Linked DNA regions of Homo sapiens. The protein of the gene in region 3 interacts with the protein of the main gene of each other region in a pairwise test. Each region holds a gene or a part of one and is shown on either strand. Other genes may lie near its edges. The genes, in order: PPP1R3B, IGBP1, PYGM, NIPSNAP2, ARID1B, CDC42BPB and INTS4.

Region 1 (4,084 bases), on a different chromosome or scaffold from region 3:
GGAAATTTCTTCTGAAGTATACCTACCTGTGAAACCCTCCATATCTGGGGCGCTCTGTGCCACGGGTGTCAGACTTTTGCAAAAGCCCTGTCATTCTAACGGGACGCCCTCCTGTAGGAAGTTGCCCCCTGGCGCCCGTCCTCCGGCTTCTGATGAAACGGCGACCCACCACCCCCTTCCCAGACCCTGGCCCGCAGCCGGATCACTCCGGGCGCGCTGCCGATCACGTGGCGAAGCGGTGCTCCCCAGCGCCGTGGCTGCGCGCCCATTGGTCGGCGGCTGGAGTCCCGGGCGCGCCCATTGGCTGCGGGGGGCGTTCACGTGGCAGGGGGCCTGGGATGGACCCCGGGGTCCCGAGAGCTGGCAGGAAAGTTAAAGGGGGCAGCGCGGCCGCGGGGAGCTCGAGTCCCGGGTGACTGCTGGAGGGAGGAGGTGACCGCGCAGCTCTCGTGCACGGACGGACTTCGCCGCCCGCGGGGGGCGCGAACCCGAGCCCGGGCCCAGCTCCTGCCGTCACGGCAGCTGTCCCTGTTCCCCCAGGGCGTATGCTGCCGCGGGCTGGCGCGTCTGCCCTCGGGACTTATGAGCTGAACCCGGTACGTAGCTCCCCAAGTCTCGAGTCCGAGGGAAGGGCTGGGGACAACAAGGCGAGGGCGTGCAGCGGGGACCTCTTTGGGTTCCTGTCACCTACATTTTCACCGTGCGACTTGCACTGGCACACCGGGGCTGGAACACTCTAGGTAGCTGGCCCCAGGGAGCTGTTGCTTCAGCGTGGAGAGGGCGATCCAGGGACCGCAGCTGGGAAGCGCCTCCCGGGCCCACGTGCTCCACCGCGCTGCTGGGCCCGGCTGCGACCGTGACCCGGGAGCTGCGGCTGCGGCGGCTGATCCCTTTACCACCTGTTGTTCTGGCTTCGAAACTAGCACAAGTTCCCAGCCCCGGGTCCCGAGAGGTCTGGAGACTTCTCCAAAGTTGGGTAGTGGGGTTTGGAGCTTAAGGACAAGCCGCTTCGTCTCTCTCCGGGCCTTATTTTCCCTATAAAACGCGAGGAAATACACTTGGTAGGCTCTCAGGCCACCGAGGGCGACGGGACCTAGCACGATCCCCGTCCCGGGCTGGCGGAGGCCAGGCGGCCGCGCGGGGGTGCTGGTGTCGCGCTGCTTGCTCCGGCCGGGGTTGCCCCTTTGCCGGCCCCGCCCGGGTGCGATAACGGGCTCCTCCTCCTCGTCGTCTTCCTCCCACCGCCGACATCTCCGGGAACCCAGCCCAGGCCCTGCCTCCCGGACACACCGACGCTCACGTAGTCGCGCTTGCCACAACCCTGCGGGCTCTCCGATGCGGCGAGCGAGCTGGGGAGGGGGCTTCTCCGCGGCCCAAAAGGTGGGTGCGGCGCGAGGCCAAGGAGGCTTGTAGGGAGGTTGGGGGCGGAGTGCAGCCCTGGTCAAACTGGACGGAGGGGACAGAGTCGGAGAGTAACTTGTGGGATCCTCCAGCCTGGAGAGCACTGGCCTGCTCCTGCGTCTCTTTGGAATCCAGAAAAAGGGGTGTGGAAGGCACAGTAGCTGCAAAAGAGGGAGTGGGGGCCGGTAATGACTTACTGGAAGATTTGGGGCCTGTCAGAGCACTGTTTTCTGAAAAAGAGGAGAAAACAGAGGAAAGACTGGACTTGGGAACTTGGAGACTTGGAAGGTGTTGGAACCTGTGGTCTGAGTGGCGGGGGCCTGCCTGGGAGACCCAGGGTGCAGCAGAAGAGACAATTAGAGCTTTGGTCTGGGAGGAAGAGGAGGAGAGGAGGAAATGTTTCCTTGGGCAGAGTTGTCCAGGAGCCAAAACTAAAGTGAAGACAGCTGGAGGACTTACACAAAAGTACAGTTGAGGTATTTAGGAAAAAAAGTTAGTGGGAAGAGAAGCGGCACCAGGGGTGGGTCGCAACATACAATGTCAGGGCCAGCAGGGACCTTGGAGGGGACCTCAAGCCCAGAGCAGCTGAGTGACTCGCTCAAGTAGCAAAGCAAGGTGCGGGCATTCTTAGCCTAGTACTCTGTTTTCCCTCGTACGTTTTTAGACGGCAGGGGCTGTGTCATTTGAACTTGCCTCTTTCCTAGAATATGCAACTGTATTCACAAATGTCAGTCTCCAAGATGCTTTGGATGATGGGGACAGGATCAAGGGGTACAAGGAGCCTTTAAGGCTGTGAATAGGCCCCCATGGTCTGAGTACAAAGGGGAAAGACATGCACTCTCTTCATGCTGGATCAGTGAAACCTTTTGGAAGGGAACACAGAATTGTTGGAGGGAGGTAGATGGCCATGTCTTTAAAAATGAAAATTATAACCTGGTTGTGAATGTTTACTGAATGCAGTTCGGCAGCTTTCAGTGTTCCTGGTGGGTTGCTTGTGCATCTGATTTTTTTGTTTGTTTGGTTTTGTTTGTTTGTTTTGAGACGGAGTGTCGCTCTGTCGCCCAGGCTGGAGTGCAGTGGCGCCATCTCTGGCTCATTGTAAGCTCCGCCTCCCGGGTTCACGCCATTCTCCTGCCTCGGCCTCCTGAGTAGCTGGGACTACAGGCGCCCGCCACCACGCCCAGCTAATTTTTATTTGTATTTTTAGTAGAGACGGGGTTTCACCGTGTTAGCCAGGATGGTGTCGATCTCCTGACCTCGTGATCTGCCCGCCTCGGCCTCCCAAAGTGCTGGGATTACAGGCGTGAGCCACCACGCCCGGCCTTTTTTTGCCTTTTTTTTTTTTTTTTGAGACGTAGTTTCGCTCTGTCGCCCAGGCTGGACTGCAGTGGCGCCATCTCGGCTCACTGCAAGCTCCGCCTCCCGGGTTCGCGCCATTCTCCTGCCTCGGCCTCCTGAGTAGCTGGGACTACAGGCGCCCGCCGCCACGCCCGGCTAATTTTTTTTTTTTGTATTTTTAGTAGAGACGGGGTTTCACCGTGTTCGCCAGGATGGTCTCGATCTCCTGATCTCGTGATCCGCCCGCCTCGGCCTCCCAAAGTGCTGGGATTACAGGCGTGAGCCACCACGCCCGGCCTTTTTGTCTTTTCTTACCAGAAGAAAGAGAGAGAGAGAATAAGAGAATGGAGGGGATAATGTCGTGGCCCTGATACAAAAAAGATTTCCTCCCTATGAAAGGTACAGCCAGAAAGTCAGTAGTTCAGCTGCCTGAAACCGTGAAGGTCATAGGGTTATTTTCTGTGCAGGTCTATAGTTATCACCATGGCCGTCTAACCTTGGCCAGCTGTCTTGAGAAGGTGTGTTATGAGTGGAACAGATAAAGCATTTATGCAAAACTATCTCCATGATCTGTTAGGGTTTGCCCTGTCTTAGCCATGAACACTGTAATCTACCCTCAAGCATGGCCCAGTCTCTCACCAGAGAAACTGATCCCTGAGCTCTGAGGCATCTCTATGGAAGCAAGTGTTTGAGAATTCATACCTACCTGGGAGCAGCACTCATACACTCATTCCTATCCTGCAACTGGTATCAGATCCTGAGTCCTGCTCTCATGGTTCAAATGTATGTCCATAACTTCTGGTTCTTTTTTTTTCCCCCTTGGCCAACTTTGGTGACTCATATTCCCTGGCCTGGGAAAAGGACAGAGCTGGAGCAGCCAGAGAGTCTGTCAGGAGAGGAGGCTGGGCTGCAGCCTGGTGCTTCCTGTGTTGGAACCGATCATTTTCATGTCATTTGTAAAAGAAGCACCTGTCCAGGTGCCTTCTTTTCAGGAACTTAATATTACCTTGCACATCTCAGTTGCTAGGAGTACTTCTGCATGGCGGCAGCCATCCCTGTCACAGTCCGCTGGGGAGTTCCTGAGCAGTTCAGGAAAGCCTACACCAAACCAGCACTTTGGTGTGCTGATTCTTGGAGAATGACCTGGTAAATAAAATCTGGAAGCTATCTGTGGGACAGGCAAGGTGACTGACAGTCGAGTCATACCCCAGATTGAGGCCACACAGGTTAATGTCCTCACCTGCAGTTATGGTGACACACAAAGTGAAGGGATTCTAGACTGGGGTTGCTTGTGCAATGTCCCTGGGGTAGTAGTCCTGCGGGTAACTCTTGAGCCATCATAACC
Region 2 (4,423 bases), on a different chromosome or scaffold from region 3:
GAGTCTTTTTTTCTGAGATAGGGTTTCTCTCTGTTGCCTAGGCTGGAGTACAGTGGTGTGATCATGGCTAACTGTAGCCTCGAACTCCTGGGCTCAAGTCATCCTCCTGCCTCAGCCTCCCGAGTAGCTGGAACCACAGGCATGAACCACCACACTTGGCTAATTTTTACATTTTTTGTGGAGACAAGGTCTTCCCCTATGTTGCCCAGGCTGGTCTCGGCCCTCCCAAAGTGCTGGGGTTACAGGCGTGAGCCACCTTGCCTCGTTCTTTTCTTTTAAACCCTTTACTATAAAATAAAACATGGTGGAAACCACACAAGTACATATAAAACAAATTTTTGTAAGGAGGCCTTATAGCCTCCACTCAGGTCAAGAAACAGATCTCCTGTATCCACCCTAAAAGCCTCTCTGTGTACATTATACAAATCAACTCTCCTCCCCTGCAAAAGTAACCTCTATACTGCTTTTTATAGTAATAACTTCCTAGAGTTCATCACAGCTTTATCACCCAAGTGCATACCACTAGACACTGTAATTGTCCATTTGTACATTCATTTTTTTACTCAATGTATTTTTTAGTACAGAGTTGTGCAACTATCACCACAATCCAATTTAAAAAATTCTATAACCCCAAAAGATCCCTTGTGCCCATTTACAGTTAATTCCCATTCCTTCCCTCCCTGCCCCCAGCTCCTAGAACCATGAATCAACTTTCTGTCTCCATAGATGTGCCTATTCTGGACATTTCATACACATGAAATCAAAATCATGTAATCTGTGATCTTTTGCGGCTGACTTCTTTCACTTAGCATCATCACCTTTTTTTGTTGTTGTTGTTGAGACAGTCTTGCTCTGTCTCCCAGGCTGGAGAGCAGTGGTGCGATCTTGGCTCACTGCAACCTCCACCTCCCGGGTTCAAGTAATTCTCCTGCCTCAGTCTCCCGAGTAGCTGGGATTAAAGGTGCCTGCCACCACACTCAGCTAATTTTTGTATTTTTAGTAGACATGGGGTTTCACCACATTGGCCACGCTGGTCTCGAACTCCTGACCTCAAGTGATCTGCCTGCCTCGGCCTCCCAAAGTGCTGGGATTACAGGTGTGAGCCACTGCGCCTGGCCTAGCATCGTATTTTTGAGGTTAGCCTTGCCTATTTAAAAATGTTTTGATATCTTTTTAAATCTATGGGTTCCCCCTCCACCCCTTTCTTTCAAGTTATCTGTTGAAGAAGTTGGGGCATATGACCTGTAGAGTTTGTTTCCCAAAGACTGGATTTTGCTGATTGCATACTCATGATGCAGTCTAACATGTCCTCCTTTATTTTCTGCAGATTGGCAGCTGAATACAGAGGCTTGATTTGACTCAAGTTTGATCCCTTCAGCATGAATTATAATTATAGGTGGTGCTGCATTCCTTCATCAGGAGGCATGTAAATATCTCTGTCTCGTTGTAATGTTAGGAGCTGTTGATGCTCAATGCCGAGACCCATTCATTTATTGGGGGGTTTCAAAAAGGTGATACCCTTAATTTTAACTTTTTAAAATTAACTGGAATACTTTTACAAAGAGAGCCTTCCCCTCATCAACTACTATTTGGTTACCTAGTAGAAAAGATAAAATACTTGACTCTTTCCCTTTATTTACCATTTCTCAAGATATTGGGTTCCCTTATTAGCCTCTGAGGTTGAATAATTTGGTCTTGTTTTATAATATAATTATGGGCTGGGCACGATGGCTCACACCTGTAATCACAGCACTTTGAGAGGCTGAGGTGGGAGGACTGCTTGAACCCAGGAGTTCGAGATCATCCTGGGCAAGATGGCGAGACCCTGTGTCTACAAAAAAAATATTTATGACACTTATATTGGCTCAAAAAATTATAAAAAAGAAAAAAACTTTTAAAATCTGCCAGGCATGGTAGTGCATGGCTGTAGTCCTACTCACTCGAGAGGCTGAGGCAGGAGGATTGCTTGAGCCTGGCCTGGGCTCAGAGTGTGAGACCCACCTCTAAAAAAATAAAAATATATATATATAATTATGAACTTAGAGATTTAAACATATCTGGTGAGTTTCAGCCAGTTGCAACTATTATTATTATTTTTGAGACAAAGGAGTCTTGCTCTGTCACCCAGGCTGGAGTGCAGTGGTGTGATCTTGGCTCACTGCAACCTCCGCCTCCTGGGCTCAAGCGATTCTCCTGTCTCATCCTCCCGAGTGGCTGGCATTACAGGCATGTGCCACCACGCCTGGCTACTTTTTGCATTTTTAGTAGAGATGGGGTTTTATCACATTGGCCAGGCTGGTCTTGAACTTCTGACCTCAAGTGATCCACCCACCTAAGCCTCCCAAAGTGCTGGAATTACAGGCGTGAGCCACCGCGCCCGGCCCACAATTATTGTTTTAAAAAACTATTTAAATCAACTTCTTAATTTTAGAAGTTTTCAATTTACAGAAAAATTGAGAAAATAGTACTGAGTTCCTACATAACCACACCCAGTTTCTTATCATCAACCTCTTACATTAATACAGTTTCTGTGATACAACTAATGAACCAATACTAATATATTATTAACAACTAAAGTGCATACATTACTCAAATGTCCTTAGGTTTTACCTAATGTCCCTTTTCCGTTCCAGGATCCTATCCAGGTCACCACAGTACATTTTGTTGTCTGTTTCTTTAGTCTCCTCTAGGATGTAACTCTTTCTCAGACTTTCCTTCATTCTGATGACCTGGACAGTTTTGAAGAGTACTTGTCAGGTATTTTGTAGAATGTCCCTCAGTTTGGGTTGCCTATTTTTTACAGAATTAGACTAGGGTTATGGGTTTTGGAGGACAATACTATATATGCTATCAACCTGACTTCACACTGATAATAACCTCGATGACCTGACCAAAGTGGTATTTGTAGGTTTCCAACTAAAGTTACTTCTCCTGTCTCCTTCCACATTGCAGTCTCTGGAAGCAAGTCACTAAGCACAGCCCACACTTTCGGGGTACACAGTCATGCTACACCTCCTTGAAGCAGGAGTATCTACATAAAATTAATTGAAATTTTTCTGTAGGGGAGATTTATCTCTTCTCCCTCATTTATTTACTTATTCAACCACTTATTTCTATCACAATGGACTTGTGTGTATTCATTTTATTCCTAGTGTGATAATCCAATACTGTTAAATTTACTTTCCTGCCCAAGTTCTCCCAGTTTTGGGCTGTGAGGGTGCAGCTGGCTCTTGTGTTCCTTTAACACCCCAACAGTTTTTTGAGCTCTTGTTTTCTAGTACAGAGAGCCCTGAGTTAAGATTTTTCAAGTTTATGATGGTGTGAAAGTGACATGCATACAGTAAAAGCCATACCTCATATTTTGAGATATTCAATATTTTAGTATAAAATAGGCTTTGTGTTAGATGATTTTGCCCAACTGTGGACTAACGTAAGTGTTCTGAGCAGGTCGAAGGTAGGTTAGGCTAAGCTGTGATGTTGGGTAGGTTGGGTATAGCAAATGCATTATCAACTTAACAATATTTTCAACTTAGAATGGCTTTACCAGGATATAACCCCATCATACGTTGACTATCATCTGACTACGAGATGCTCCAGGTTCATCTTGTATATTCCCTGCCTCAGCCCTAGAATCAGCTATTTCTCCAAGGAGCCCTGGTTCATTTATTAGAGGATGGTATTAGAAACCAAGATTTGGGTGTTGGATGGACTTGTTGCTACTGTCAATTATCCTCTGTGAAACCGAATTGGCCAGTGGAAACATCTTTAAATTGGCTCGATATGACCCCAGTAGTCTTTGAAAGCTCCTTCCCTATCTTTTATGACAAGATGTTCCAAGCTTATTTGTATATTTCCTGCCCCAGAATTGTAGTCAGTTATTTCTCTAAGACACCCTGATTTCTTAAAAGAAAGAATATTGGGAAGAATATTTCTGTATCACAATTGGAGTTACTAGGTATACTCATTGCTACTGGGCTGGTCCTTGTTTCTAAGCCTTTTCAGTGAATAGAGCAAAAGCAGGGGTGGGTGTGTGTGTGTGTTTAGTTTTAAATAAAATTTCTCATGAGTTCATATGGAGTACTACAGGGTTTAAAAAAAATCTAAATTCTTTGGAATTACATCTGTATTCTTTCACATTAAAAGTCCTAGTTCTCAAAGACAGAGGATGATAGAATTAGATTATCTAATAACTGCTCATTTATATTATCTCACATTATACATAGTCTTGGAATAATAACACTAACTTTGACACTCCACCAATATAATTACTGAGAACTGTTAAAATTTTGCATGATTTCCCCATTTCTCCATTTTTAAAAAGTTATCTACATTATCTGGGCACATAGGCATTACATACTCTATCTCCCTTTTAATCCTCATTTCATCTTAATTCTACAAGTAACTGTACATTTAACGCTTGCTA
Region 3 (4,423 bases):
CAAAGGACCATCTTGGCGACTTGAGTCTGCCCTGAACATCTCGACAGCAGCAGCCCAGAAAGGGGGACAGGAGAAAACTGGAGCCTTCCGAAAGGAATTCACTCATCACACAGCAAGTTAGAGGGATCCTAAAACCAAACCAAATCTAGACACAGTGGCTCATGCCCGTAATCCCAGCACTTTAGAAGGCCGAGGTGACAGTATGGCTTGAGTTCAGGATTTCAAGACCAGCCTGGGCAACATAGAGAGACCCTGTCTCTACAAAAAATAAAAAAAATAGACTGGGGCAGTGGGTCATACCTGTAATCCCAGCACTTTGGGAGGCCAAGGTGAGCAGATTGCTTGAGCTCAGGAGTTCGAGACCAGCCTGGACAAGAGGGCGAAACCCCGTCTACAAAAAATACAAAAATTAGCCAGGCGTGATGGTGTGCGCCTGTAGTCCCAGCTACTCGGGTGGCTGAAGTGGGAGAACTGCTTGAGCCCAGGAGCCTGGGTGACAGAGCCAGACCTCGTCTCAAAAAAAAAATTTAAAAAATTAGCCAGGGTGCTGGTGCATGCCTGTAGTCCCAGCTACTCTGAGGCTTCAGTGGGAGGATCACTTGAGTCCAGGATTTAAAGGCTGCAGTGAGCTATGATTGTACAACTGCACTCCAGCCAGCCTGTGTGACAGAGTGAGACTGTTTCAAAAAGCAAAAAGACCAAAAACTGAAAACCTTAAAACCAAACCAGGTGTACAAATCCCAGTTTAGGCCGGGCGTGGTGACTTACACCTGTAATCTCAGCACTTTGGGAGGCCAAGGCAGGTGGATCACCTGAGGTCAGGAGTTCAAGACTAGCCTGACCAATATGGTGAAACCCAGTCTCTACTAAAAACACAAAAACATTAGCCGGGCATGGTGGCACGTGCCTGTAATCCCAGCCACTCAGGAGGCTGAAGCCAGAGAATCGCTTGAATCCAGGAGGTGGAGGTTACAGTGAGCCAAGATAGTGCCACTGCACTCCAGCCTGGGTAACAGAGTGAGGTCCCATCTCAAAAACAAACAAACAAAAAACAAATCCCAGTTCAGGCAATCTTCCTGCTGAAGCTTCAGGTCATCAGCCCCCAGATGGGCTGCAGATAAACCACTAGGCTTTCAGAACTGAGCATTTGTTTGTTGTCCTCCAGGTTAAGATGCAGTGGGGGCTGCTGGCAGTCCATGCCAGGTGCACGTGGCAACTGGCACAAGTGGCTGTGGCTGGAAGGCAGGAGACCTGGCTCCCTCTGGTGCTGCCAGCCTGGCTGTGTGCTCGGGGATGGGTCCCTTCCCTCTCTCTGTGTCAACTCCCACCCTGCACCAATCAGGGTGACTGAATGTGGGGAGGGAGGGCGATGCCCCTTAAAAGGGCTCGCTTAGAGGAGTGAATGTACCCCTGGCACCGTGGTAGCAGACAATTATTGATGTTTGCTAGTTATGGAAGGCGGGGCAGAATTAGTCACCGTGAATTAGCCCTGTGGTCAACCAGAGATGAGACCTTTGGATGGACTTGACCTCTGTGACCCCTTCAGCCTGGCCCTGGGTTCCCCCAGCCCTCTCATGAGTCCACAGTGTCCTCTAGCTTTTGCTCAGGCCAGGCTGGCCAGCCCAGCCCCCATTGCTGCAGAGTGGTCGCCAACAGAGCCCCTCCTGGGTTCCGGGCTTATCACCTGCCTCCTTCCATTTTCCTCACCACCGTCTGCCCAGGCAGGGCTTATGGGTGTCGGGGAGGTGTTGAGGGTGTCTTTGCTCTAGATGCGGTCCAGAGAGACTATGGGGTTTGCTCATGGTTACCCAGCTCATCGATGCTAGACAAGGACAAGAGCCTGGGTCTGCAGAGTGCAGGGATAAAGCCTTGAGTCCCAGCCCTGAGGGGAGGGAGGCAATTGCCAGGGCTGGCCAGCTCCTGACAGGATTGCCCCCCGCAGGTGGTACTGGCCATGCCCTACGATACGCCCGTGCCTGGCTATCGCAACAATGTTGTCAACACCATGCGCCTCTGGTCTGCCAAGGCTCCCAATGACTTCAACCTCAAGGACTGTGAGTTCATCCACTGGTAGCCAGCAACCCCAGCTTGCCCGCCGGCCACGCCCAGCGCAGGCCTTACCCTGTCCCCACTTTTGTCCCTCAGTCAATGTCGGTGGCTACATCCAGGCTGTGTTGGACCGAAACCTGGCGGAGAACATCTCTCGTGTCCTGTACCCCAATGATAATGTGCGTCACCCCCTGGGCTGGGGGCTGGAAGCCTGAGTCCTTGGCAGCAGGGGTCAGGGAGAGCTGGGGAAGGACACTTGCTGGTGCCCTAGTCACACCCAGGGCATATTGCTGGCCTTGTGCATCCTGTGCCCCCACCTCAAGTCTTTTGAGTGCAAGGACACCTGAGTCCTGAGGAAACTGGGTTAGCGAAGGGCACTTTGGAGGGGCTGTTCCCTGGCGACACCCACAACACACTCGGTTCTTGTACCCCTCTTCCTGACACTGTCTCTCGCCACTAGTTCTTGGTGGAGGAAAGGCCCCTGGGTCCCAGAGAGGGGGCCGGCTCAGGGCTCAGGGGTCCCGGTATGGGTGGGAGTCCCTCCTGGCCACACCCACCGCAGCTTTAGGCCATGCCCCCACCGCCCTGACTCACGCTGCCTCATGCTGTCCCCAGTTCTTCGAAGGGAAGGAGCTGCGGCTGAAGCAGGAGTATTTCGTGGTGGCTGCCACCCTCCAGGACATCATCCGTCGCTTCAAGTCTTCCAAGTTCGGCTGCCGTGATCCCGTGCGCACGAACTTCGATGCCTTCCCAGATAAGGTACCATGCGTGTGGAGGGCGACTCTGTGACCGGACAGTGTGTGCTAGGCCTCTCCCTCCAGCCTCGGCCTGCCTGCCCCATGTAATAGATAAGGGAGTGGAGACTGGGAGTGTGGGAGGGTCAGTTGTTCAGGATTCACAATCCACAGGCTCAGAACCTGGGCTTCCCTCCTCCTCCCGCCCCACTCCCCCCATTCCTCCCACCCCCATGAGCACCGGCCTGCCTCTGCCCACAGCCCAGTCACAGAACCGTGCTGGGCTCTCTGGGGGCCTCCAAATGGCATAGGGCAGTGACCATAGCATGGAATGTGGTTTGGAGCCCAGACTGACCCCTCCCCCTACCCCAGGTGGCCATCCAGCTCAATGACACCCACCCCTCCCTGGCCATCCCCGAGCTGATGAGGATCCTGGTGGACCTGGAACGGATGGACTGGGACAAGGTGGGCTTCAGGGCCCCTCTGCCCCATCTGATGCTCTCTGCCTCGGGGTTCCCTTCCCAGTTTGGGAGCGTGGGAGGATATGAATGGAGTGAAGGGATCAGAGCCTGAGGCCAGAGGGACCGTCCTGGAACCTGGCACTGCAGTGGGGGGGCCCACTGGGATGCGTAGTGTGTGAGGAGACCCACTGGGCTGAGGTCAGCATCCTGACTGCCCACCCCGTGTGCCAGGCGTGGGATGTGACAGTGAGGACCTGTGCCTACACCAACCACACGGTGCTGCCCGAGGCCCTGGAGCGCTGGCCGGTGCACCTCTTGGAGACGCTGCTGCCGCGGCACCTCCAGATCATCTACGAGATCAACCAGCGCTTCCTCAACGTGAGTCCGGAGGCTTGGGGGATGGTGTGGGGGTGAGGGGGGACACCCAGTCTGGGCCTGGGAGTCGGGGCGTCCAGCCAGGGCCCTGAGACTCTGGGGCAGTGGGGGCACTGGGCAGAGCTCTGGGGGTGTGGGGCTGGGGACTGGGGATGGGGGTTCCTGGGTCTGGTTCTAGCTCTGGGCTCTCTGGGCACAGCGGGTGGCGGCCGCATTCCCAGGGGACGTAGACCGGCTGCGGCGCATGTCGCTGGTGGAGGAGGGCGCAGTGAAGCGCATCAACATGGCACACCTGTGCATCGCGGGGTCGCACGCCGTCAACGGCGTGGCGCGCATCCACTCCGAGATCCTCAAGAAGACCATGTGAGCCCCGCTTTCCAGATCCCGCCCCTCTCTAGGCCCCACCCACTCCACGCCTCTGTCACACAGAAGCCCCGCCCTTCACCGACCACTCTCTGGTCTCTGGGCCCTGGCGCCTTTCACAGGTGGCGTCATTCTTACAAGCACAGCAGCCCCTTCCAGTGCCGCCCTGTCCTGAGATGACCTCCTCTTACACACAGCACCCCCAACCTTCCCCAGGTCTGCATTCCCTGCCCCAGGCCCCTTTCAGCAAGACACCAGGGTAGGGGCCCCAGGGCAGAGGCCTTCATTGTACAGGGGTGAGTGGTGACCCTCGTCCAACCTCATCCTGCAGCTTCAAAGACTTCTATGAGCTGGAGCCTCATAAGTTCCAGAATAAGACCAACGGCATCACCCCTCGGCGCTGGCTGGTTCTGTGTAACCCCGGGCTGGCAGAGGTCATTG
Region 4 (3,471 bases), on a different chromosome or scaffold from region 3:
TAATTTTGCTCAGAATTTCCCCAGCCCAGTATATTACACACCTGAAGTAGTCCCTGAGAAAACTAGATGTCCAGGTGAAGCAAGACTTTAACGGATGTATGGGTGGAATGCAGTGTATGTGTTTTAAGTCTTACTTCTCTGTGTGGTTATTTTTAAGCTTACAGGGATCTTCAGACCAGGGAAGACATACGGAATGCAGCATGGCACAAACATGGCTGGGAGGAATTGGTATATTACACAGGTAATCTCTTAACAGCCATGAAATATGCTTTTTGTCTTACTGTTTCAATCATGTTCTTTCACCCTGACACTAATAGGTGGGTTTTGTAATAGTATGTTGCTAGGATAGTGAGTTATCAGGTTGTGGGGGGAAGGGAGATAGTCAATTTTTCTCTAATACTTACATGACTTTTTTTCAATAAAGTAGAATATCCATGCTTTCAAATAGGTATATCATCTGTTACAGTTTTCAGACCCTTGGATGTTGTAAATTTTACATCATTACCTGTTTTTGTAGATTTCTATATTCTCTGAAAACTTATTACACAAATAAAATTTTTTTCTAAGCTTTCCTTTTCCATCAGAATTGTTAGTATCCCAAATCAGAACTTAATACATCAATTAAAGAGTGATTTTGAAATTAGATAAATTAAACTTCCTGTATGTACAGTATGTATCTGGGTACATAATACATGCATGTGCACATACATAAGTATATTATGAAACCCTGTTTGCTTGATTTTTAAAAGAAAACAGTTGGCTGAATGTAACCCAGTGGCATTGGTAGAGGTAATCAGTACCAGCCATGTTGCATGGCAAGTATATTTCAGGCCGGGCGCAGTGGCTCACGCCTGTAATCCCAGCACTTTGGGAGGCTGAGGTGGGCAGATCACCTGAGGTCGGGAGTTCGAGACCAGCCTGACGAACATGATGAAACCTGTCTCCATTTGAGAGACTGAGGCAGGAGAATCGCTTGAACCTGGGAGGTGGAGATTGTGCCACTGCACTCCAGCCTGGGTGACAGAGCAAGAATCCGTCTCAAAAAAAAAAAAGTGTATCTCAGCCCCTATACTACCAAGAAAATAAAAGAGTAATTTGTCCTAGAAAGTAGGTGTTACCTTGTCTTTCAGTTCAAGAGATTATATAACATATAATTACATGTTATAATTATATAATTGTATTTGATTTTGCTGCTTACGCGAACGTTTGAGAAATCACCATTTCTCCTCACAGTATGGACTTTTCCTACCTCCCACAAATAAAACAAATATCCAGGTAGGATCTGTTTTTTTTTTTTTTTTTTTTTTTTTTGAGACGGAGTCTTGTTCTGTCGCCAGGCTGGAGTGCAGTGACGCGATCTCGGCTCACTGCAACCTCCGCCTCCCGGTTTCAAGCGATTCTCCCGCCTCAGCCTCCTGAGTAGCTGGGATTACAGGCAGGCGCCACCACACCCAGCTAAGTTTTGTATTTTTACTAGAGACAGGGTTTCACCCTGTTGGCCAGGATGGTCTCGATTTCCTGACCTCGTGATCCACCTGCCTCAGCCTCCCAAAGTGCTGGGATTACAGGTGATCTGCGCCCAGCTGATCTGTTGTAATTTTAATAGCATCTTGTAGGATGGCAGCTGATACAGGGTCCGCTTGTATATTTCTGCCCTTGAGGTTAGTCCTGTATATTATGATATTCTCTTGTTTTCAAGCAGCACATCTGTGAACATTCTCGGCAATCTGTCTGTTAGTGTCATTTACCATAATGTGTTTAGAAAGTAACAAGTGCAGTAACCCTGATCTTGTTTTCAGTTCCACTTATTCAGGAAATGGAATCCAGAATCATGATCCCACTGAAGACCTCGCCCCTCCAGTAAAGCTGTAGAGTTTCTATGTGCCTACATACATTTCTGTGACAAGTATTTGTCGTAAATTAATTTTAATTGTGTATCAAGTGAAAAAGAAACACTGAGGTTTTAAGCTGCTGTATATAGCTTGTGAGAAACCTCTTTTCTTTAAAATTTACATAATCACAAGAAAGGAAAGAATTACAGTTGGACTGATTGTGACAGTGCCTTGTCGTCCTCTTTGAAACACCCCGTGTTGTCCAGTATACCTTATAACACTGAGCCACTTCTCCCCACCCTCCAGAAGGGGTCCACGTTGAATTCTGAATCATCTTGAAAATAAGATTCCAACCACAAAAAAAATTTAGCCATTTCTTTACTAAAAAAAACCAAAAAACAAATCTGTTTTATAATCACAGATTTTTAGACAAATTTCTTGTATCAGGAAGAAATACAAATTTTGTCATGTTTCTCAAGCAGTTTTTCTGAGTAGTTTCTGAGGAGGAACAAATTACAAGTGTACCCAATAACTGAAAATGTTTTAACTCACTCTCATTTGTAAGCAGTCCACATAGTAGACAATGGGTTTTCCAAGCTGGGCAAGGTACATTTAATCAGTAAATCAGTTTCACATCATGTATTGTGATGTTTCAATGTGAGACACAAAAACAATGGCTTGAAACTTGTGTATCATATGTGATTTTGAAATGAACACCTTGAATAGCACTAATTTTTATTTGTGGTATTTTTCTATAACAAAACAAGTAGCTCTAGGAAAAGAGGTTTTATTTTGTAAACGATCATTTGTGACCTCAGACACTCTCTGGCTAATATTTTAATAAGCTCACAGCAGATAATTCTGAGATCATGGGTGAGGGGTGGTGCATGTTGAGATTTAAATTGGCATAAAGCTGCATACTTTTTGTCTAGCTGTTTGATTTCATTTTTTAATATAGTATGCCAATTTTGTGACTGTTACCATGTGAAAGTCCTGTTGAAATGAACAATTGTCTGCCCCACAATCAAGAATGTATGTGTAAAGTGTGAATAAATCTCATATCAAATGTCAAACTTTTACATGTGAATGATTTTCTCAAAGAACATAGAAAAGTCAATAAAATCCTCTTAATTTCCACATATCACGTTTGGATTTTCTTTTTTAATTTGTTCTGAGATTGACAAACATTGCTGTGAATGACCTTGTCACTCTTGCAAAATAGCTTGTCACAAAAGATTGAAGGAAGTGAGGAAGTCAGCTGGCTTCTGGGGAAAATCCCTCCATAGGAACAAATTACGAGGCCCTGGGCAAGGTCATGCCTGGTATGTGCTGAGGGCAGCAGAAGCCAGTGGCAGAAGCAGACATGAGGGAGAGTGTGGTGGGACACGAGCTCAGAGGTCACAGGGCTGGATCCCTTGAGTGTTGGAGGCCATTAGAAAGACCCTAGTGGCCGGGCCCAGTGGCTCACACCAGTAATTCCAACACTTTGGGAGGCCGAGGCCAGAGGATCCCTTGAACGCAGGAGTTTGAGACCAGCCTGGGCAACATGAATGAAACCTCATCTCTACAAAAAATCGAAAAATTAGTTGGGCATGGTAGCATGTGCCTGTAGTCCCAGCTACTCAGGAGGCTGAGGCAG
Region 5 (4,423 bases), on a different chromosome or scaffold from region 3:
GACCAGTGCCGCTGCAGGAACCGCCCTTCGTGGTGTGGCTTTCCAGACATACAGGACTTTGCTGTTTTTAAAAAACTTTTCAGATCTGAGAACTCTTGCAAAAAATAAAAATTTTGAAAACTATATATATGTTATATAATTATAATAATTATATATAATAATATGTATATCATTTTTCATTTATTTAATTTTGCTGGAGCATATAGGCACAAGGAATTGCTTTTTTTCTTTTTTTGAGATGGAGTCTCGCTCTGTCTGGAATCCAGTGGTGCAATCTCGGCTCACTGCAACCTCTGCCTCCTGGGCTCAAGCGATTCTCCTGCCTCAGCCTCCCAAGCAGCTGGGACTACAGGCACCCGCCACCATGCCCAGCTAATTTTTGTATTTTTACTATAAGAGACGGGGTTTCACCATGTTGGCCAGGCTGGTCTTGAACTCCTGACCTCAGGTGATCCTCCTGCCTCAGCCTCCCAAAGTGCTGGGATTACAGGCGTGAGTCACTGCGCCTGGCCAGTGAATTGCATTATTAAACCAACTGATCTTAAACAGTTTTCAAGTAAAGTGGAAAACATCAGCATCTCACTGCCTCCCATCAGAGTCCCACCTACCCCGATTAAGCACTGGTCCCGGAGCATCCTGGGAAGCAAGCTTAATAACAGGTGTGGTCCCAGCCCTGTCCTCAGTGCTGGGACCAGTGGGGCTTTGGGGGAGCCACACCTGACCAGGCCAGAAGTCAGGGCAGGAGCCGTGGGATGGATGTTGGGTGACACGGGCCAGTCTGGGGAGCCGAGTCCTGTTCGGGGGCTTTTCTGTAAAATGAGGCCCAAGAAACCCTTTTACCCCAAGACCCTTTCAGGCCGGCCCCTGGATGCTGGCTTTCCTGTGAGAGGGTCCTTCTGCCTCCTGCTGTGGTCCTAGTGCAGCTCCCAGCCCGGGAGCCGTCTGCCTGTGTGGGAGTTGAACGCTGGCTGTCCCGGTGGCACAGCCTAAGGAGAGGAGGCTTTTTTTTTTCCACAGGAAGTTTCAAACACGTGAAAACAAACTTTGGATGCTCTCTCCTCAGTGTGTGACATGGTGTATATAATACTGAAATATTGAACATAAATTGTTAGTTCTCTGTTGTTATAGGAGCTTCCCATATTCATTTTGAAATGAACATTCTAGCAGGTAATAACTATTTTGCATAATTTCAGTGTGTGATTATACCTGTAAGAGCACATCAGGATGATTTGTCTTTCTGTGAATTCCAGAATTACAAACGCCATATGGACGGCATGTACGGGCCCCCAGCCAAGCGCCACGAGGGCGACATGTACAACATGCAGTACAGCAGCCAGCAGCAGGAGATGTACAACCAGTATGGAGGCTCCTACTCGGGCCCGGACCGCAGGCCCATCCAGGGCCAGTACCCGTATCCCTACAGCAGGGAGAGGATGCAGGGCCCGGGGCAGATCCAGACACACGGAATCCCGCCTCAGATGATGGGCGGCCCGCTGCAGTCGTCCTCCAGTGAGGGGCCTCAGCAGAATATGTGGGCAGCACGCAATGATATGCCTTATCCCTACCAGAACAGGCAGGGCCCTGGCGGCCCTACACAGGCGCCCCCTTACCCAGGCATGAACCGCACAGACGATATGATGGTACCCGATCAGAGGATAAATCATGAGAGCCAGTGGCCTTCTCACGTCAGCCAGCGTCAGCCTTATATGTCGTCCTCAGCCTCCATGCAGCCCATCACACGCCCACCACAGCCGTCCTACCAGACGCCACCGTCACTGCCAAATCACATCTCCAGGGCGCCCAGCCCAGCGTCCTTCCAGCGCTCCCTGGAGAACCGCATGTCTCCAAGCAAGTCTCCTTTTCTGCCGTCTATGAAGATGCAGAAGGTCATGCCCACGGTCCCCACATCCCAGGTCACCGGGCCACCACCCCAACCACCCCCAATCAGAAGGGAGATCACCTTTCCTCCTGGCTCAGTAGAAGCATCACAACCAGTCTTGAAACAAAGGCGAAAGATTACCTCCAAAGATATCGGTAAGAATTCCAAAGCTTTCATTCTGAAATGAATTCCAGTTGCAGTGTAGAATTTTAATTTTAGTAAAGATGCTGTTCCTGCTCATCTTAAAGGGATGAAAAAATTATGACTAGAAGTTATCAAGATGCGTTTTTATATAGGAGTAATATAGTTGGAGGCTGCTAATCTGAATTAAGAAATAGTGCCAGAAAGATTGGCCGGGCGCGGTGGCTCATGCCTGTAATACCAGCACTTTGGGAGGCCCAGGCGGGTGGATCACGAGGTCACGAGATCGAGACCATCCTGGATAACACGGTGAAATAAAATGGTAGTTTTACGTGTGAATGTTATTTGTGTGAAAGATTAGAGCTTCAAGTAAGAGATCAGGGAATCCTGAGTGGTTATATGCTGTATTTTGGGCTTAAAGATTTGAACTTAACCAAGCCACTTAATCACTACAATACGTGCCTAACAGACCCCCCCATGAGGCTAATGAAATGCTAAAGGTGACCTGAGAAAATCTGAAGGCAAGCCACTCTGTAATTTGGTGACAACATACAGTGAATTTCCGTGGGAAAAAGTTAAAGCTTGTATGTAATATGTAGATTGATAGATGGTATGACATAAAGAATATGCTATGCTGTGATACATAGAACTGATATCATCCAATGCACTGGTAGACTTGGGCCAAGAACCATGTCAATCGAATGCTGATGTTGCTTGTTTATCCTCTGTGGGATGTTCTGAATACTAATCAGAGGTCTGGACTATCTGGAAGTACACACAGGGTTTCTGCATTATTTTTGAAGTACTTTTAACACAGGAAGGAAGATAATAGATCTGAGTTATATTAGGAAAAATTACTCAAAAAATATCAAGAACAAATTGACTTAAAATCTTTTTCAGTGATTAGAAAATTAAAGATATTAATAATTTGAAAGACATCAATCACTGGACATTAAGGAGATGTAGATTGAGAGACCAGGGCAGGAGAATCACTTGAACTCAGGAATTCGAGACCACCCTTGGACAACCTAGCAAAACCTCGTCTCTACTAAAAAGAAAAAAAATTAGCCAAAAGTGAGATTCATTTCTGTAGTCCCAGCTATTCAGGAGGCTGAGGTAGGAGGATCACTTGAGCCCAGGAGATCAAGGCTTCAGCAGTGACTGTGCCACTGTATACACACACACACACACACATATTCCTTTATATATATCTATCCATTTATATATAATGCATGTGTATCTATATCCCTTTATATATATATATAGATAGATATAAATATAGATATATAGATATATATAGAATATGTGTGTGTGTGTATTTATATGGGGTTGCAGAGGGAGAGAAGGAGACACAGACACTGAGCACCATTTTATATATAGAAATATATACACACACACACACGTGTATTGTGTGTTTATGTGTGTATATGTATGTTTAAATAAATACATCTAAATTTTCTAAAAATCTCCCAGTGCGGGTTATATAGCATTTGTCTTCAACCTAGGGAAATTTACATGTTTATTTTTAAAAGTAATTTTGATTTTTTTATTGTAAAAACAGTATGTAGCTATCTTAGAAAATTTTAAAACAGATAAAATAAAAGTGGAAAAGCCACGGTGTCTCCCCCTCATGCAATGATTCTTGGTGCCTGGAGAATGCCCCCAGCCTCCAGGCAGCTCCAGGGATCTGGCCGAGCTGGGTCTCATGGCAAATCTTCCAAACTTTCTACCTGATCATTTTGTTTCCTTCAGTAGCAGGAATAGGGAAAACAACAAATTACTTCCCATTCTGTGGCTCCAGCCATACTCCTGAGAAATCTGAGCCATCAAAGTGCTAATATTTATCACAGCATGTTCTGAGGGCAGGAGCACAGGACTAGAGGAAAGCAGCCTGGGAAGCCAAGGCCGTGTGTCTGAGGAGGCTGTCTTGGAGTTAAATTTTGCTTCCATGTTCTGCATACTTGGCGGCCTTCCAGGACGCCACCTTGAGACACTCGTGAGTGGTGAAGCCAAAAGAAGACAAATACCACTTTTGGGTTTGACTCATTTATTAAAAGCTCTGATACCACATTGCAGACTCTGTAGGGTGGCTGAAAGAAATAACCCGGCCATGAGAAAGGACCATCTGTGCTCAACCACTCCACCTCCAGAAGCACTTTCGGCCCCTGCGTGACCAACAAAGCGAGATCTGAAACCACAAAAGTTTCTCGTTACAGCTATGGCCTCCATTTAAAATCGGAAATGATCACGCTTAACTGTCCTTGAGAGCATTTGTTTAAAGTCAATATTTAACTTAACACTCCACTTATTTTTTCTTACTCTTTCGTTAACTTTCGTTCTTTCATGCATAGAGTCAACATTCATGATATCCTTGTTCTTCCCCATCTTCAGTTACTCCTGAGG
Region 6 (4,423 bases), on a different chromosome or scaffold from region 3:
CCACGTTTGTTTTTTTCTTAGATTCTTAGTGTTATGGGATGACGGTATGTTATGGTTACCTTAAATTTGTGTGAGAAGCTCACAGAAAGCCTCTCTTGCTAATGAGAATGGATGAGAGGAAACACCCTCTCCTTAAATCTAAAATCAGAAGTGTTTTGGCAATGTGAACTGCGTGTAGTAATCTCCCGCCCCCCCGCCCCAAATACACTAGCCACTAACTGGGAGATAAAGGTCAAGTTTCAGTTTGATTTTAAACAATCTGTGTTGGGGGTTAGGTTTTTGGTTAGTTTTATTGATTGGTAGGTAACAGTGGCAACAAAATTGTTTTTTGATTAAAACTGCAAAAAATCGATGTGTAATAGAGAACTTCTTTGGATTTTTGTTTTTCTTAGGAATTAGAAATTCAAACATAAATTTGAATGGAATGATATAATTTCATTCAAATTCGGTCCTTGGATTGGAGAGTCTTTGGAGAACATTTGGGACCTATTGTAAGGTGATTCCCAGTGTTAATTTAGGTGATGATTTCCCTGACCTCCAAAATTGCAGAGTCATAGGTTGGAAAACTGTTAAGAATTTTTTTTTTTCCCCCCAAGACAGGGTCTTGCTCTGTTACCCAGGCTGGAGTGTAGTGGCTCTGTCATGTCTCACTGCAGCCTTGACTTCCCAGGCTCAGGCAGTCCTCCAGCCTCAGCCTCCTGAATAGCTGGGACAATAGGCATACACCGCTACACCTGGCTAATTTTTTATTTTTTGTGGAAACGAGGTCTTGCTGTGTTGCCCAGGGTGGAATTGAACTCAGGCTCAAGTAATCCTCCTACCTTGGCCTCCCAAATGTTGGGATTATAAGTGTGAGCCACTGCGCTCCGCTATGTTAGGAATTTGGGGAGGTCATGTTAACCTGCCCTCCAGCCCACTCCCCACTCAGGTTGGGTAAACCAGGTTCTGAGCATTTTCCCTAACCGTTTCTGGGCAAACAGCCCTCTAACCAGCATTTCTGTCCTTCACAGGACTGCGGTCAGCCTCAGGCCTCCTTGCAGGTGCCTGCTTTGAAATATCTTTATTTTATTTTAGCCTTTTCTTTCTATTCTCATTGTCAGGGACCTAGGTAAAGCTCTCAGGTCCTCAGGCCTAAATGAATGCCTTTCCCACTTGAAGTTTTAAATACCTCTGCCAGATCAGTCTCAAACTCTCTTCATCACTCTGCCTTTCCAAAACTACAATGCCTTCATATTCTGTTGCCTTTAAAATAAAAAGTCTGATATCCACAATTCAGTATTAGAATTTGAAATTGACCCCAAAAGACGCATCTAATCTTAGCTTTAGAAGTTAAGGTTATGGCCGGGTGTGTTGGCTCATGCCTGTAATCCCAGCACTTTGGGAGGCCGAGACGGGTGGATCACAAGGTCAGTAGTTCAAGACCAGCCTGGCCAACATGGTGAAACCCCGTCTCTACTAAAAATACAAAAATTAGCCGGGCTGGTGGCGCACGCCTGTAATCCCAGCTACTCAGGAGGCTGAGGCAGGAGAATCACTTAAACCCGGGAGGCGGAGGTTGCAGTGAGCCGAGATTGTGCCATTGCTCTCCAGCGTGGGCAACAAGAGCAAAATTTTGTCTCAAATAAATAAAAAAAGTTAAGGTTAACAGCACTTCCCACCATGCCCCATGGGGTGATTTTCTTTTAACATCATTTAACTTTTATCAATGTAATGCATTTACTTAGTTTTGGAAACTAAGCGGTACTACTGGGTTGTAGTGCAAGACAGCAGTCCCTCTACCAGTCGCTTGCTCCGCGCTCCAACTTCCCACAGACTACCACTTTTAACTGCTCTGTTTCTACTTATCATTTTAGTTAGGATCACATTTAGCTGCCAGTAATGGAGAACAAAGTGACAGTGACTTAAATAAAATCAGGTTGATTTCTCTCACGTGAAGTTGACGTGTCAGCAGTCAGTGCTAGTTGGACAGCCTTGCTCCAAGAGGCCTCCGGGGCTGTGGCCTTTTCCCACCCTCAGGCCACCATCTGAGACGGTGGCCATCCCACCCTCCTTCAGCCAAGCAGGCCGGGGGTGGGATGTTACTATAGAAGATCCTTGGATATTGGTGGGTGCTTAGCAATGCCTGCCTTAAATTTCATATTTCTGTGTAGCATGCTGGTACTGCTAATTTCTGATTTTACCATTTTAGACATTGCTGACTTCTGCTGTAGAAGAGGCCTTAGAACTGTTCTACATTGTCCCTCCACTGCCTGAAACACATTCACCCCTTGCTCTTTTTCTGTGTTCCAAATATGTTTATATAATTTTGTTTAAATTGGTAATTCAGTGTCTGCATTCTTATTGTTAGGTAACTGTCTTCACAGCTAAGCCATGTAAGATACAGTTTACTAAGGGAAATAGTTTTGTGTTATTGGAGTGAATTTTCTTTATTTTCTTTTCTTATAATAATCCCATGGAGTAAATTTTTTTTTTTTTGGAGATGGAGGCTCATTCTGTTGCCCAGGCTGGAGTGCAGTGGCATGATCTTGGCTCACTGCAGCCTCCGCCTCCCGGGTTCAAGTGATTCTCCTGCCTCAGTCTCCCGAGTAGCTGGGATTACAGGCACCCACCATCACACCTGGCTAATTTTTTTTTTTTTTTTTGAGACGGAGTCTTGCTCTGTCGCCCAGGCTGGAGTGCAGTGGCCCGATCTCGGCTCACTGCAGGCTCCGCCTCCTGGGTTCACACCATTCTGTCTGAGCCTCTCGAGTAGCTGGGACTACAGGCGCCCGCCACCATGCCTGGCTAATTTTTTTTTTTTTTTTTTTTTTTTTTTTTGTATTTTTAGTAGAAACAGGGTTTCACCGTGTTAGCCAGGATGGTCTCCATCTCCTGACCTCGTGATCCACCTGCCTCATCCTCCCAGAGTGCTGGGATTATAGGCGTGAGCTACCGCGCCCAGCCATGCCTGGCTAATTTTTGTGTTTTTAGTACAGATGGGGTTTCACCATGTTGGCCAGGCTGATCTTGAACTCCTGACCTCAAGCAGTCCGCCCGCATTGGCCTCCTGAAGTGCTAGGATTACAGGAGTGAGCCACCGCTCCCGGCCGAATTTTCTTTAGCTTGGTTTTCAATGTACAGTCATGAATTTAGTGCCAGGCTTTTAACTAGAACTCCTCCATTAAACACCTCACATAATCTTATCACCTTCATCCCTTCCAGGCCTGCCACTTTTCTGTTTCAGCCTGGGCCGGGTGTCCTGCGGGCCTGCTACTGAGCAGTCCTCCTTGGAGTGCTTTTCATTCCTTGCAGGGATTCTTCGTGTCTCTTTCCTCTGTTGAATTCCCCTTTCTGGATTCTGTGTCTTTCATCTTTTGGTGGAGTGAATCTTCTAGTAGCTTCCTGAGAAAGAATTCATCGGAGGTGAATTTTTTGAACCAGGTCTGTCTGAAAATGCTTTTTTTTTTGGACACAGAGTCTTGCTCTGTTGCCCAGGCTGGAGTGCAGTGGTGCAATCTTGGCTCACTGCAACCTCCACCTCCCGGTTCAAGCAGTTCTCCTGCCTCAGCCTCCCGAGTAGCTGGGACTGCAGGTGCACACCACCACACCCAGCTAATTTTTTGTATTTTAGTAGAGACAGGGTTTCACCATGTTGCCCAGACTGGTCTCGAACTCCTGAGCTCAGGGAATCTGCCCGCTTCGGCCTCCCCAAGTGTCAGGATTACAGGCATGAGTCACCATGCCTGGCTGAAAATGCCCTTTCTTCCCTCACATTTGAATGGCACTTTGCCTGCGTACAGAATTCTAGGTTGGAAGTCATTGTTCCTCAGAAGTTTGAAAGCATGGAGGCATTGCTGTCTACACTGAGAGTGTTGGTAATGAGAAGTCGGAGACCACGATGGTTTCCAAGTCTCTGTGTGGGACTTTTCTTTTGTAAAATCTCTGGAAGCTTTCAGGGAACTCTTGTTTATCTCTAATGTTCTTTGGTGGGTCTTTTTGATTGGGACGCTTGGGTCCTTCAGCTCTGGGGAACTTTTGTTGATAATACTGTAGTTTTAATGTTTGTTCTAATTTTTTTTTTTTTTTTTTTTGAGAGTATTACTCTGTTGCCCTGGCTGGAGTGCAGTGGCGTGATCTGAGCTCACAGGAACCTCCGCCTCCCAGGTTCAAGTGATTCTCCTGCCTCAGCCTCCCAAGTAGCTGGGATTACAGGCGTCCACCACCAAGCCCAGCTAATTTTTGTATTTTCAGTAGAGATGGGATTTCACCATGTTGGCCAAGCTGTTCTCGAACTCCTTACCTCGTGATCCACCCGCCTTGGCCTCCCAGAGTGCTTGGGATTATAGGCATGAGCTGCCGCGCCCAGCCAAGAACACTTAAAAATGAAAGATACAGTGTCAGAAACAAAAATTCAATGTAAGGCTGGGCGCGGCGGCTCCTGCCT
Region 7 (4,423 bases), about 13 Mb from region 3:
CTGAGATAAGTAAGACAATTTAATTTTCAAGAAGTTAATGTAGACAGACATGTGACTTCATCACATATATGTGGTGTCAGATTTAAGCCATAGTCCTTGTGATACTAAAGTCCATGTTCTTAGATCGACGTTAAGGTGGGTGGTATGTGAAACTGTGGGCATAGAGATCTCCCAGGGAGAGTTTATAGAATGAGAGGAGTAGAGAATAGAAGACAGCCTGAAGGAGAAGGAATCCATCTTGGACTTATCCCATGGCTCTTAATTTGATATGAGTTACTTTATATATATATATAAAATATGGGGCTTCAGTGTGTTGCTCAGGCCAGCCTTGAACTCCTGAGCTCAAATGATCCTCCCACCTCAGCTTCCTGAGTAGCTGGGACTTTGGTGTATGGCACTGCACCTGGCTGATGTGCAGTTTTTGTTTTTTTGTTTTTGGAGTTTTTTTTTTTTTTGAGACAGGGGCCCACTCTGTCACCAGGATGGAGTGTAGTGGCACGATCATGGCTCACTGCAGGCTCAAACTCCTGGGCACAAGTGATCTTCCTGCCTCAGCCTCCCAAGTAGATGGGACTATAGGCGTGTGCCACCACACTTGGCTAATTTGTTTTTTGTGTGTTTTGTTTTGAGATAGGGTCTCATTCTGTCACCAGGCTGGAGTGCAGTGGCATGACCTTGGCTAACTGTAATTTCTGCCTCCCAGGTTCAAGTGATCCTCCCTTCTCAGCCTCCCAAGTAGCTGAGACAACAGGCGCACGCTACCACACCCAGCTAATTTTTTAATATTTTTGGTAGAAACAGAGTTTTACCACATTGCATAGGCGGGCTCAAGTGATCTGCCTCCCTTGGCCTCCCAAAGTGCTGGGATTACAGGCGTGAGCCACTGTGCCCAGCCTGATGTGCAATTTCATTTGTTCTTTTTTCTAGAGGTTCGTATTGCTGCTGTGGAGGCCCTCTGCATGTTGGCCCAGTCTTCACCCTCTTTTGCTGAGAAGTGCCTTGATTTCCTAGTTGACATGTTCAACGATGAAATTGAGGAAGTACGTCTGCAGTCTATACATACCATGAGAAAAATCTCTAACAACATCACCCTCCGAGAAGATCAGCTTGACACTGTCCTGGCTGTGCTAGAGGTGAGTGTTTCTAATTTGTTACTCATTTCTTCATCCCTCACCCCCCCCTGTTAAAATCAGGTATTGTGCTAGGCATTGGTGACAGAACACTATATCAGGGAGCACAGTTCTGTTTTCTCACCATACCCCTTCCCTAAGATGGAAGAAATTGACTGTGAAACAGGAAATTTGAATAAGCTTGGTCTTTCTGTGATCAAGAAAGGATAGGATGCCTAGGGAATACATAGTGTCTAACCTGAATTGGCTGAGGTGAGGTTGGGAAGAAGGAGGAAGTGCTGTAGTGGACACTTGAAGGAGGAGTAGGACTTAACTAGGCTTTTTTTTGCCTTCTTCTTTTGAGACAGGGTCTCACTCTGTCACTCAGGCTGAAGTGCATCTTTTTTAAAGGAGAAGTGACACTGGTGGTAGGATGAAAGGGTACCAGACAGAGGGAGCAATGTCTAAAGATGCAGAGATAAGACAGAATATGATATATTCAAGGAACTAAAAAGAGTTTATTATAATGATAGTGTAGAGTTGAAGAGATGGAAGAGTGGAGGACGTGGCTATAGATAAGGTAGGGGCTAAATAATGAAGAGTTCTTTTCAACCTTTAATTTGATTTTATTCTTGTAGTGAATCATAGGCTGTTATAGCAGCAAGTGATCTTAGGGATTGATTCATTCTACCCTGGGAATTTTATAGAGAAAAAAATAAGTTGTTTGAGTTAGTGGCTGAACCAGAATGTAAACAGAGAGTTGCTTCCCAGGCCATACAGCTCTAGGTGGTTCTTGTATTATTTTTCTAAAATGTCTGGATTTTAATTGCAACTACTCAAGTTCTTCAGAGTATTCATAAATGGGGTTTGTCCTCTGGTTTCCTTTTTTGGGGAAGATGGGGTTCAGATGTGAAAGGGATAGTGATTAGGTGCTTAGTTTTTAGAACACTTGTAACAGATTTCTACTGCGTACTTTAAAGAATAGCTGGTGCTTTGGTTTTGAAGGTCCCTACCATTCTCTCAGCTGCTTAGCACTTCTACTGAGATTTTTCCTGAATTATAAATCTTTATAATTTTTTCATGTATTTTTTCCTAAAAATAAGTTTACATTCTATGTGCGGTTCTTCATGGGTGGCCTCATACATAGCCTAGCCACTCCTTTCCTTTTTAGCTTTCTTTTCCACCATTCCTCACCTTGAACTTTATGCTGAAGTCACTTTCCTACACATATTGCTTTTCCTCACAATTTTACCTTCAATGTAATTTTCCCCCACAGTTTGCAAAACTGCCACTTTAACCCAGGAGACGTCCACTTATTCCCACAGCCTATATTAGGTAACATATCCAGGAAGCCTTCCCTAACTGTTACTCCCAGCACTGGGTGGGCTAAATGCCACCACTCTATTCCCATAGCACCCTGTGTATACTGCTGTAGCATTTTTCAGTAATTCTCTATTTCATAAGACTGTGAGCTCCTCAAGGTGTCTTGACTTTTCTTTTCTTTTCCTTTCCTTTCCTTTTTCCTTTCCTTTCCTTTCCTTTTTTTTTTTTTTTGAGGCTGAGTCTCGCTCTGTTCCCCAGGGTGGAGTGCGGTGGTACGATCTTGGCTTACTGCAACCTTCACCTCCTGGGTTCAAGCAATTCTCCTGCCTCAGTCTCCCGAGCAGCTGGGATTACAGGCACGCACCACAATACTAATTTTTGTATATATTTTTTTTTTTAGTAGAGATCGTGTTTCACCATATTGGCCAGGCTGGTCTCGAACTCCTGACCTCAAGTGATCCACCCACCTTGGCCTCCCAAAGTGCTGGGATTATGGTGTGAGCCACCGTGCCCGGCTGACTCTTCATTTTTTTATTACCAATGTCTTGCAGCAGTGTCTGGCACAATTAGGTGCTCGGTAAGTGTTTGCTGAGTAGCTGAGCTATGTTCCAAGCTATGTTTTGATGTACAGAATTGTTCACAGGTATGCTTATTTGTGAGTACTTATGTATATAACTCACAAAGAATCCTTGCCTTTTAATTCTTTTCAGGAGTTCAGACCAATATAAACTTACAGTAGACTATTCTTCCACCCTGCTGTGTACTTCTCCCTTATATTTTCTGTGTCACTGGGCTTCATTGCTTTGAGCCTTACCTTGCTGACCCTTCCAGCTGGAATTTGCCTTTTTTTTTTCCTGCTATGTCAAGATCCTACCCTGCCTAGAAAAATTCACTTCTTTATTCAACAAGCACTGTCTATGTATTAGAAATATAGGGATATCAAAACAGGCAGGATCCCTGCTGTCATAAAACTTATATTCTAAAGAGAGGTGGAGTAAACAAACAAAATGATTTCAGATGGTGATAAATGTTTTGCAGAAGATAAACAGTATGATTGAGGAATGGGGAATTTCTCTGTAATTTGAGTGGTTAGTAAAGACTTTCTGAGGAGATGATGTTCAAGTTGAGTCTTGAATGATAAACAGAAGCTAGCTATGTGAAGACTGGGAGAATAACTTCAGGTAGAGGCAACAGCTAGTGGAAAGGCTCTAAAACACAAGTGAGCTTTGTTGTGTTTGCAGAATAGAGAGAAAGCCAGTAGGAGTGAACCACAGTGAGAAAGTAGAAATGTGGCATGAGATGAAGTCTGAGAGGGGATTAGGGACAGGTGGAGAGCCTTGTAGGCCATTTTAAGATGTCTGGATTTTATTCTAACATTATGGAAAACTGTTGCAGAATTTTATGGATAGGAGTGACATTTCGATTTGCCTCTCTTTTAATATTTCTCATTCTTGAAATCTTGAAATTCACTTCAGATAGATTGACTTTTTCCCTCACTCCTCCATTTAACACATACAGGTATACCTCTCTTTATTGGGCTTTGCAGATATTGTGTTTTTTTAATAAATTGAGAGATTGCGGCAACCATGCATTGAGCAAGTCTATCGGTGCCATTTTTCCAATAGCATGTGCTCACTTTATGTCTGTGTCACATTTTGGTAATTCTTGCAATATTTCAAACTTTTTCATTATTACATCTGTTACAGTGATCTGTGATCAGTGATCTTTGATGTTACTGTTGTAATTGTTTTGGGATGCCACAAACTGTGCCTGTATAAGATGGCAAACTTAATAAGTATGTGTGTTCTGAGTGTTCTGCTAACTGGCCATTCCCAGCCTCTCTCTTAGCCTTTCTTCTTAGCCTGTCCTTTTTCCTAGTTGCAAAAAGGCTCTTGTACCTTCAGCATCATGATTGAGTTCCAGATAGGATGGAAAAGGAAGGTTAAAGAACAAAGGGGATAAAGCTACTGCCTCTGGTCCTTTATCAATAA

The links.
Region 1: the proteins of PYGM (region 3) and PPP1R3B interact in a two-hybrid assay, tested with the Homo sapiens proteins (one large-scale study listed by BioGRID and IntAct).
Region 2: the proteins of PYGM (region 3) and IGBP1 interact in a two-hybrid assay, tested with the Homo sapiens proteins (one large-scale study listed by BioGRID and IntAct).
Region 4: the proteins of PYGM (region 3) and NIPSNAP2 interact in a two-hybrid assay, tested with the Homo sapiens proteins (one large-scale study listed by BioGRID and IntAct).
Region 5: the proteins of PYGM (region 3) and ARID1B interact in a two-hybrid assay, tested with the Homo sapiens proteins (one large-scale study listed by BioGRID and IntAct).
Region 6: the proteins of PYGM (region 3) and CDC42BPB interact in a two-hybrid assay, tested with the Homo sapiens proteins (one large-scale study listed by BioGRID and IntAct).
Region 7: the proteins of PYGM (region 3) and INTS4 interact in a two-hybrid assay, tested with the Homo sapiens proteins (one large-scale study listed by BioGRID and IntAct).

What each region holds. Positions count from the first base shown.
Region 1 is NC_000008.11:9,147,859-9,151,942, reverse strand, and holds the start of PPP1R3B (protein phosphatase 1 regulatory subunit 3B), read left to right. Parts: upstream 1-1,284; 5' UTR 1,285-1,380; intron 1,381-4,084. UniProt on the Homo sapiens protein: Acts as a glycogen-targeting subunit for phosphatase PP1. Facilitates interaction of the PP1 with enzymes of the glycogen metabolism and regulates its activity.
Region 2 is NC_000023.11:70,160,652-70,165,074, reverse strand, and holds part of IGBP1 (immunoglobulin-binding protein 1), read right to left. Parts: exon of another isoform or gene 2,611-4,423; intron 1-2,610. UniProt on the Homo sapiens protein: Associated to surface IgM-receptor; may be involved in signal transduction.
Region 3 is NC_000011.10:64,753,078-64,757,500, reverse strand, and holds part of PYGM (glycogen phosphorylase, muscle form), read left to right. Parts: intron 1-1,942; coding exon 1,943-2,054; intron 2,055-2,145; coding exon 2,146-2,228; intron 2,229-2,664; coding exon 2,665-2,808; intron 2,809-3,155; coding exon 3,156-3,248; intron 3,249-3,475; coding exon 3,476-3,622; intron 3,623-3,818; coding exon 3,819-3,982; intron 3,983-4,313; coding exon 4,314-4,423. UniProt on the Homo sapiens protein: Allosteric enzyme that catalyzes the rate-limiting step in glycogen catabolism, the phosphorolytic cleavage of glycogen to produce glucose-1-phosphate, and plays a central role in maintaining cellular and organismal glucose homeostasis.
Region 4 is NC_000007.14:55,997,209-56,000,679, forward strand, and holds the end of NIPSNAP2 (protein NipSnap homolog 2), read left to right. Parts: intron 1-157; coding exon 158-241; intron 242-1,799; coding exon 1,800-1,864; 3' UTR 1,865-2,971; downstream 2,972-3,471. UniProt on the Homo sapiens protein: Protein involved in mitophagy by facilitating recruitment of the autophagy machinery required for clearance of damaged mitochondria.
Region 5 is NC_000006.12:157,199,455-157,203,877, forward strand, and holds part of ARID1B (AT-rich interactive domain-containing protein 1B), read left to right. Parts: intron 1-1,250; coding exon 1,251-2,034; intron 2,035-4,411; coding exon 4,412-4,423. UniProt on the Homo sapiens protein: Involved in transcriptional activation and repression of select genes by chromatin remodeling (alteration of DNA-nucleosome topology).
Region 6 is NC_000014.9:103,046,927-103,051,349, reverse strand, and holds part of CDC42BPB (serine/threonine-protein kinase MRCK beta), read left to right. Parts: intron 1-4,423. UniProt on the Homo sapiens protein: Serine/threonine-protein kinase which is an important downstream effector of CDC42 and plays a role in the regulation of cytoskeleton reorganization and cell migration. Regulates actin cytoskeletal reorganization via phosphorylation of PPP1R12C and MYL9/MLC2.
Region 7 is NC_000011.10:77,925,052-77,929,474, reverse strand, and holds part of INTS4 (integrator complex subunit 4), read left to right. Parts: intron 1-927; coding exon 928-1,133; intron 1,134-4,423. UniProt on the Homo sapiens protein: Component of the integrator complex, a multiprotein complex that terminates RNA polymerase II (Pol II) transcription in the promoter-proximal region of genes.